Linked DNA regions of Homo sapiens. The protein of the gene in region 2 interacts with the protein of the main gene of each other region in a pairwise test. Each region holds a gene or a part of one and is shown on either strand. Other genes may lie near its edges.

Evidence for each region.
Region 1: the proteins of RESF1 (region 2) and TBC1D4 interact in a two-hybrid assay, tested with the Homo sapiens proteins (one large-scale study listed by IntAct).

The regions. Positions count from the first base shown.
Region 1 is NC_000013.11:75,283,170-75,286,669, reverse strand, and holds the end of TBC1D4 (TBC1 domain family member 4), read left to right. Parts: 3' UTR 1-3,167; downstream 3,168-3,500.
Region 2 is NC_000012.12:31,976,196-31,980,230, forward strand, and holds part of RESF1 (retroelement silencing factor 1), read left to right. Parts: intron 1-4,035. UniProt on the Homo sapiens protein: Plays a role in the regulation of imprinted gene expression, regulates repressive epigenetic modifications associated with SETDB1.

The DNA.
Region 1 (3,500 bases), on a different chromosome or scaffold from region 2:
CGCCTAGTCACAGCAGGTGGACCTCGTGCTCATCAGAGCATGCCAATCCTAAGCCATTGGACATATGTAGACTGGTTTTTGTTGTTGCTATGTACATATAAATATATATATAAAATGAACATAGTTCATGCTTTCAGATAAAATGAGTAGATGTATATTTAGATTAATTTTTTTAGTCAGAACTTCATGAAATCCACACCAAAGGAAAGGTAAACTGAAATTTCCCTTGGACATATGTGAAATCTTTTTGTCTTTATAGTGAAACAAAGCCAGAGCATCTTTGTATATTGCAATATACTTGAAAAAAATGAATGTATTTTTTTCTCCAAAGAACAGCATGTTTCACTCAATGGTGAAAAGGTGGAAACATTTATGTAACTTTATGTGTATCTGTCTTGATATCTACTGACATTGTCTATATGAGGAAAATGATTACTGGTCATGCTCCTGTGAGTTTTTTGGGAAGGTAGGGTCATTTCTCCCTGCCTGCTTTGTGCCAACTAGCATGTTGCATCTACATGCATTATGAGTCTGGTTAGGCATTACTTTAAACATACATAAAGAGACAGTAGGACATTGTGGCTGAGTCTACCCAGCTCAAGGTAAAGGAGAATGTTGCTAATTTTTTAGCAAACTAGACCAGCATTATTACTCAAACTAAAAATATCACACCTGAAAAATTTAATTTAGGACCTAAAATGTCTAGATTAGCTTTCTGCTTTTTTTATTTGAATAACTCATTCAGTTGTGAATGAATTCCTCTTTATTTGGTGCCACAGTCACCAAATGACAAGGATTTGCCACTTTCCCACCAAATTGTGAGTGCTTGTAATTTAGGTCTCTCTACCTTAAATTCAGTATAAGGAAACGTAATTATGATTGATTTTTTCCAAAGATGACAAGCTGTGTTGAAATACATTTTTTCTTTTGACCAATTGACAGAATCTAATAAGCTTTAATAATCTTCCCCTTTTATGTGAAAAGTTTTGAGAACTGTGAAATGTTTAGGAACAAACTGTTGAAATCCATTGGAAGGGAAAAAAGAAAGTGGTACCAGTGTTACCAGCTCAACTAAAACCTGCAATTCTGCATTTCAACTCTTCACTTCCTCAGCCTACAAATAGCTCATTAGATGACATTCACGCATGCTGGGTATAGGCAAGGAAAGTAATTTTCAAAGTACATTTGCAGTTCTCTTTTTCAGAGATGATTCTATGATAGTGCCTCTGAAAGTTGATGCAGCATTTTTGCCTTTCCAAAAAGTATTTATCCTCACTGCTTTTTGCAGTACTTGTATTTTCACAGATGGATTATCTGGGGTAATTTTCTTCAAAGGGAGTTTGTTATACACAGTGAAAATGTATTATAGAGTAGAATAGTAAAGCTCTAGGGGTTTCAGAAAGCTTTGATGAACAGATGACAAACATCTGAAACCCCCTCCGCACTGTTACCCAGTGTGTATATAATGACTTGTTATAGCTCAGTGTGCCCTTGAATCCATACAGTTTCTTAAAAGACAATAAAATCTTATTAATAAAGTTAATGTAACTTCTAAGTTCTAGAAAATGCTGATTCTGTCTGCCCCATTCAATTGGGGGCTACTAATTGATTTGTTGCTTGGATTTCCTGAGAATTTCTCTATTTGTAGGAGGGGTTTTTTCTTTTTACGGTCTGTTGATGACAATTACTTTATGGGTGTGATGCACCGATGGTAGCCAAGGAATCTGTTGGGGAAGTTCGGAAAGAAACCTTTTCTTTCTTTTATTCAGTTTAAAGTAAACTTTATCCTGGATGTTTAGAATCAACATTAAGAGTTATATTATGGTGTTCAGAGATTAAGCTGACTTGGATACAATATTTTCTTTTGAAAATGAATTTTCTTTTTCATTTGTGATTTTTAAAAAATGTTGCACCAGTTATGCTTCATGCATCGTTACATCTTCATCAGGTTAATGTAATGTCTAGTTCCTTTGCAATAAATATATTGCTGCAGCTTTCTTGACGTATACTGTTACTTTTCGGGAGAGAAGCAGCTCTTGGTTAGAGTCTTTTACTGCAGGGGTCCCTGGGTACCTGTCTGTGGCCTGTTATGAACCAGGCTGCACAGCAGTGGTGGGCATGCGAGCAAGCATGACTGCCTGAGCTCTGACTCCTGTCAGATCAGCCACGGCATTAGATTCTCATAGGAGCGCAAACCCTATTGTGAACTGTGCATGCAGGAGATCTATGTTTTGTGTTCCTTAAGAGAATCGAATGCCTGATGATCTGTCACTGTCTCCCATCATCCCCAGATGGGATCGTCTAGTTGCAGGAAAACAGTCAGGGTTCCCACTAATTCTACATTATGGTGAGTATATAATAATAATATGGTGAGGATATAATAATAATAATAGAAATAAAGTGCACAATAAATGTGCTTGAATCATTGAATCATCCTGAAACCATCCCCTGCCACCAGTCTGTGGAAAGATTGTCTTCCATGAAACCAGTCCCTGGTGTCAAGAAGGTTGAAGACCGCTGCTTTACAAGATCTGCATGGTGAAACCCCATCTCTAGGGAAAATACAAAAATTAGCCAGGCGTGGTGGTGTGCATCTGTAATCTCAGCTACTCAGGAGAGTAGGAGAGGCATATATTGCTACTTATAGGAGGCTGGAGAATAGTTTGAACCTGGGAGGCGGAGCTTGCAGTGAGCTTGCAGTGAGCCATCATGCCACTGCACTCTAGCCTGGGCCACAGAGTGAGACTTTGACAAAAAAAAAGAAAAACAAACAACCAAACAAAAAAGATCTGCATGGTTTGGATTGTACCTACTTAAAATTGCTACACAAATAATTCTTCCTAATAGAGTCAGACAACAAAGATAATTTAGGAGACATTTATGTAAGTACATTGTTACCATTTTTCAACTTACTTTCTCAATGGAGACTTTTGAAAGAAAAATATAAGCAACCACATTGACAGATTTGCATTCTACCCTTTTATTTTCCAGGCCCCCTCATAGATAGCAAGGGAGAGAGAGCCACAAGAAAATACAAAATTTTCCAACTGGACGCAGATAATTAAGAATTAAGGACATTTACTGATGGATGTGATATGAATGTTTTTATATAAAATATGCATCTCTTGGAGTATTCTCATGTATATTTGTAATCCAATAAAAATACACTGTATCTTCTTGCTAACTTTAGGACTAACACTTTTAACTATTTTTTGCTTAATGTAGTAGTTAAGCATTTTGAGAAGGAGGCACTGTAGGCTTAATAGTACAGTCTCTTAATATCCATGTTGACTTTTACCCATTTTGTCACTATTTCACCAATTATTTTTTCACAGTACCAGATTAGGAGTAAGAAATCTACCATCTGATGGCATGAAGTATTTAGTCCTTCTACCATGATGTGACACTCTCATTATATTACTCATTAGCTGTGATATAATGAGAAAAGCACGGGATTTAGGGTGAGAAGTTTTATATCTGTGTCTTGGTTCCACCACTTT
Region 2 (4,035 bases):
TTTGCCATTTAAATATAGTTGACCATTGAATAACATAGGAATTAGGATAACTGACTCTTGTGCAGTAAAAAAAATCCACATTTAACTTTTGACTCCGCCAAAACTTGATTAACAATAGCATGCTGTTCAGTGGAAGCCTTAACAGTAACATTAAACAGTTGATAAACACATATTTTGTATGTTACATGTATTATATGCTGTATTCTTAGAATAAGCTTGAGAAAAGGAAATTTTATTAAGAAAATCATAAGGGATTGGGTGCGGCGGATCACAAGGTCAGGAGTTCGAGACCAGCCTGGCCAACATGGTGAAACCCTGTCTCTACTAAAAATACAAAATTAGCCTGGCATGGTGGTGGGACCCTGTAATCCCTGCTGCTCGGGAGGCTGAGACAGGAGAATCACTTGAACCCAGGAGGCAGAGGTTGCAGTGAGCCGAGATCGCACCACTGCACTCCAGTCTGGGTGACAGAGCGAGACTCCATCTCAAAAAAAAACCAAAATCATAAGAGAATATATTTACTATTCATTAAGTGGAAATGGATCATCATAAAGGTGTTTATCCTCATCACATTTATCTTAACTAGGCGGAGGAGGAGGGAAGAGAAGGGGTTGGTCTTGCTGTCTCCAGGGTAGCATAGACAAAAGAAAATCCACGTATAAGTGGACCCACGCACTTCAAAGCCACGTTCAAGGATCAACTGTAGTGTCTCATACAGTGTTTAATTAAGCTTCATGCTTATTTTTTATTGAGTTGTCTACATTTTTCTTTTTACGTAATTCCCTATATAGGCTGGATATGATCTCTTTGCTATGTATTGCGAATATAATCTTCTAGAGAGTGACTTTACTTTTTCACTTCCTTAATGGTGTTTTTTGATAAACAGTGGTGATTAATTTTGATGCAGTCCGTTTTATGGACCTTTTTTCTTATTGTTCATTGTGCCCTGTTATAGGAACCTTCCCCTATCCCGAGGGCATAAAGATATTCTCATGTTTTTTTGAGATGGAGTTTCGCTTTTGTTGCCCAGGCTTGAGTGCGGTGGTGCGACCTCGGCTCACTGCAACCTCCGCCTCCCTGGTTCAAGGGATTGTCCTACCTCAGCCTCACGAGTAGCTGGGATTACAGGTGTGTGCCACCACATCCGGCTAATTTTTGCATTTTTAGTAGAGACGGGGGCTTCACCATCCATGTTGGTCAGGTTGGTCTCAAACTTCTGACCTCAGGTGATCTGCCCGCCTCGGCCTCCCAAAGTGCTGGGATTTACAGGCGTGGGCCACCATGCCTGGCCTGTTTCTGGAAACTTTAAAACGATAATCTACCTGGGATTGATTTGTTTGTATATGTCTCTTGCTGTGTAATTGGATAAGGCTTATTTTCATTCGTGGCATATAGATAACCAATTGACCTAGCTTCATGTATTGAAAAGAACTTTTTTCCTAACTTTGTCATAAAACAAGTGTCTATATATAAAAGTGTGTGTATGTCTTCGCTATTCATGCTTGTTTTGCATTTCCATGGAAAGTTTATAATCAAGCTTGTTACCCCAAAAAATCAAAAAATCCACTGGGATTGTATTGACTCTTAATTACTTTTTCTTTCTTTCTTTTTTTTTTTTTTTTTTTTTGAGACAAGAGCTCATTCTGCTGCCCAGGCTGGAGTGCAAATGGTGCAATCTCAGCTCACTGCAACCTCCACCTCCCAGGCTCAAGTAATCCTCCCACCTCAGCCTTCCAAGTAGCTGGGACAACAGGTGTGCACACCTGGCTAATTTTTTTTTTGTATTTTTGGTAGAGACAGGATTTCACCATGTTGTTCAGGCTGGTCTTGAACTTCTGACCTCAAGCAGTCGCCCAGCTCAGCCTCCCAAAGTGCTGGGATTACAGGCAAGAGCCACTGCGCTTGACCTAAATTTTGAGATTATTGGCATCTTTAATGCTGTCTTCAAATATTTGAACATGGCATATCTTTACACTCAGCTGTTTGTTAGAGATGTGACACATCCTTCATTTTCTAAGTATTTTTTTAATGGTATTTTAAAAGATTACTGCTGATAATATTCTTGCATTTTGACCTTATTTTTGGGCATTGTAATAAACAGTAAAACAAAAAGATCTCTACATAGTTTTGGATTTTCTGTATAACATCTGATACTCAGTTTTGTGTTTTCCTCTCTGCTTATACTCCTAATATTTTTTTCTTTATACCAGCTAGGATCTCCAGTAAAATGATTAATGGAGGGATAGTGGCATCTTCCATGTTACTATTTAATTGTTTTAGCTACCATTTATCAAAAGAAGTTTCCATCTTTATAATTTTTTAAATATGTAGGTATTTGGGGTTTTTTTTTGTTTTTTGTTTTTTGTTTTGAGACGGGCTCTCGCTCTGTCGCCAGGCTGGAGTGTAGTGGCGCAATCTCAGCTCATTGCAACCTCCACCTCCTGGGTTCAAGTGATTCTCCTGCCTCAGCCTCCTGAGTAGCTGGGACTACAGGTGCCCGCCACCACACCCAGCTAATTTTTTTTTTTTTTTTTTTTTGTATATTTAGTAGAGGCCGGGGTTTCACCGTGTTGGCCAGGATGGTCTCCATCTCCTGACCTCGTGATACCCCTGCCTCAGCCTCCCAAAGTGCTGCGATTACAGGATTACAGGTGTGAGGCACTGTGCCCGGCAGTATTTGATTTTGTCAGAAATTCTTATCTTAGATTTTTGAAATGATCTCATGATTTTTTTTTTTTTTTTTGAAACGGAGTCTAGCTCTGTCACCCAGGCTGGAGTGCAGTGGCGCCATCTGGGCTCACTGCAAGCTCCGCCTACCGGGTTCTCACCATTCTCCTGCCTCAGCCTTCTGAGTAGCTGGGACTACAGGCACCTGCCACCACACCTGGCTAATTTTTTGTATTTTTAGTAGAGACGGGGTTTCACTGTGTTAGCCAGGATGGTCTCGATCTCCTGACCTCATGATCCGCCCACCTTGGCCTCCCAAAATGCTGGGATTACAGGCGTGAGCCACTGCACCTGGCCCCACAGTACTTCTGACACCAGATGTGTGGGAATTTTTTCCCAACTGACCAATTCTCTCCACATACCAACTGGGTGGCTTGTGATTTGATTCAGTTCTGACACTGTCTACCTGATGTTACCATCAGAACCCACAAGTTAAAGGGCTCAGTCCTACAAGACTGCCCCCACTTGAAGCTAGTCACAAGTCCAGGTTTGTACTTCTGACCAACTGGCTATAAAGCAAACAAGGTATGCTTTCTCTGAGGTCACTACCTTCCCAGCACTTCAGTGTGTTCTGTTCACCAGCCCAGAAGCTCGGCTCATCACATCTCAATGTTCAAGAGTTTTGTTTTTTAAAAAAAACAGCCTTACTCTGTCACCCAGGCTGGAGTGGAGTGGTGCCACCATGGCTCACTGCAGCCTCAACCCCCAGGCTCAGATGATCCTCCCTACACTGCCTTCTGTTTTCTGAGTAGGTGGCTGGGACTACGGGCATGCACCACCATGACGGGGTAATTTTTTTTTTTTTTTAATTTTCAGTAGAGACAGGGTTTCACTATGTTTCCCAGGCTGGTCTTGAACTCCTGGGCTCAAGAGATCTTCCTGCCTCAGCCTCACAGACTGCTGGGATTACAGGCATGAGCCACCACACCCAGCCAAGACTTTTTATAGAGTCCAATCTCCAGCTCCCCCCACCACTTTATGGAGGTCAGTGGTTAGAACTAAAAGTTCCAACCGTCTAATACTTGGTTTTCCTGGTGACCACCAGCTGTATCCTGATGGTATCTAGGGGCCCCCACTTTAAGTCACCTTAGTAGCATAGACTCAGGTATGTGCATACAGAGTTCATTATGAATAACAAAAGATATTTATGAATTAGTGTTTGCTTATGCCAGAAATTTTCTTTTCCTTTTTTTTTTTTTTTTTTTTGAAACAGAGTCTTCACTCTGTCACCCAGACTAGAGTGCAGTGGTGTGATCTTGGCTTACTGTATCCTCCACCTCCCAGGTTCAAGTGATTCTTGTGCATCAG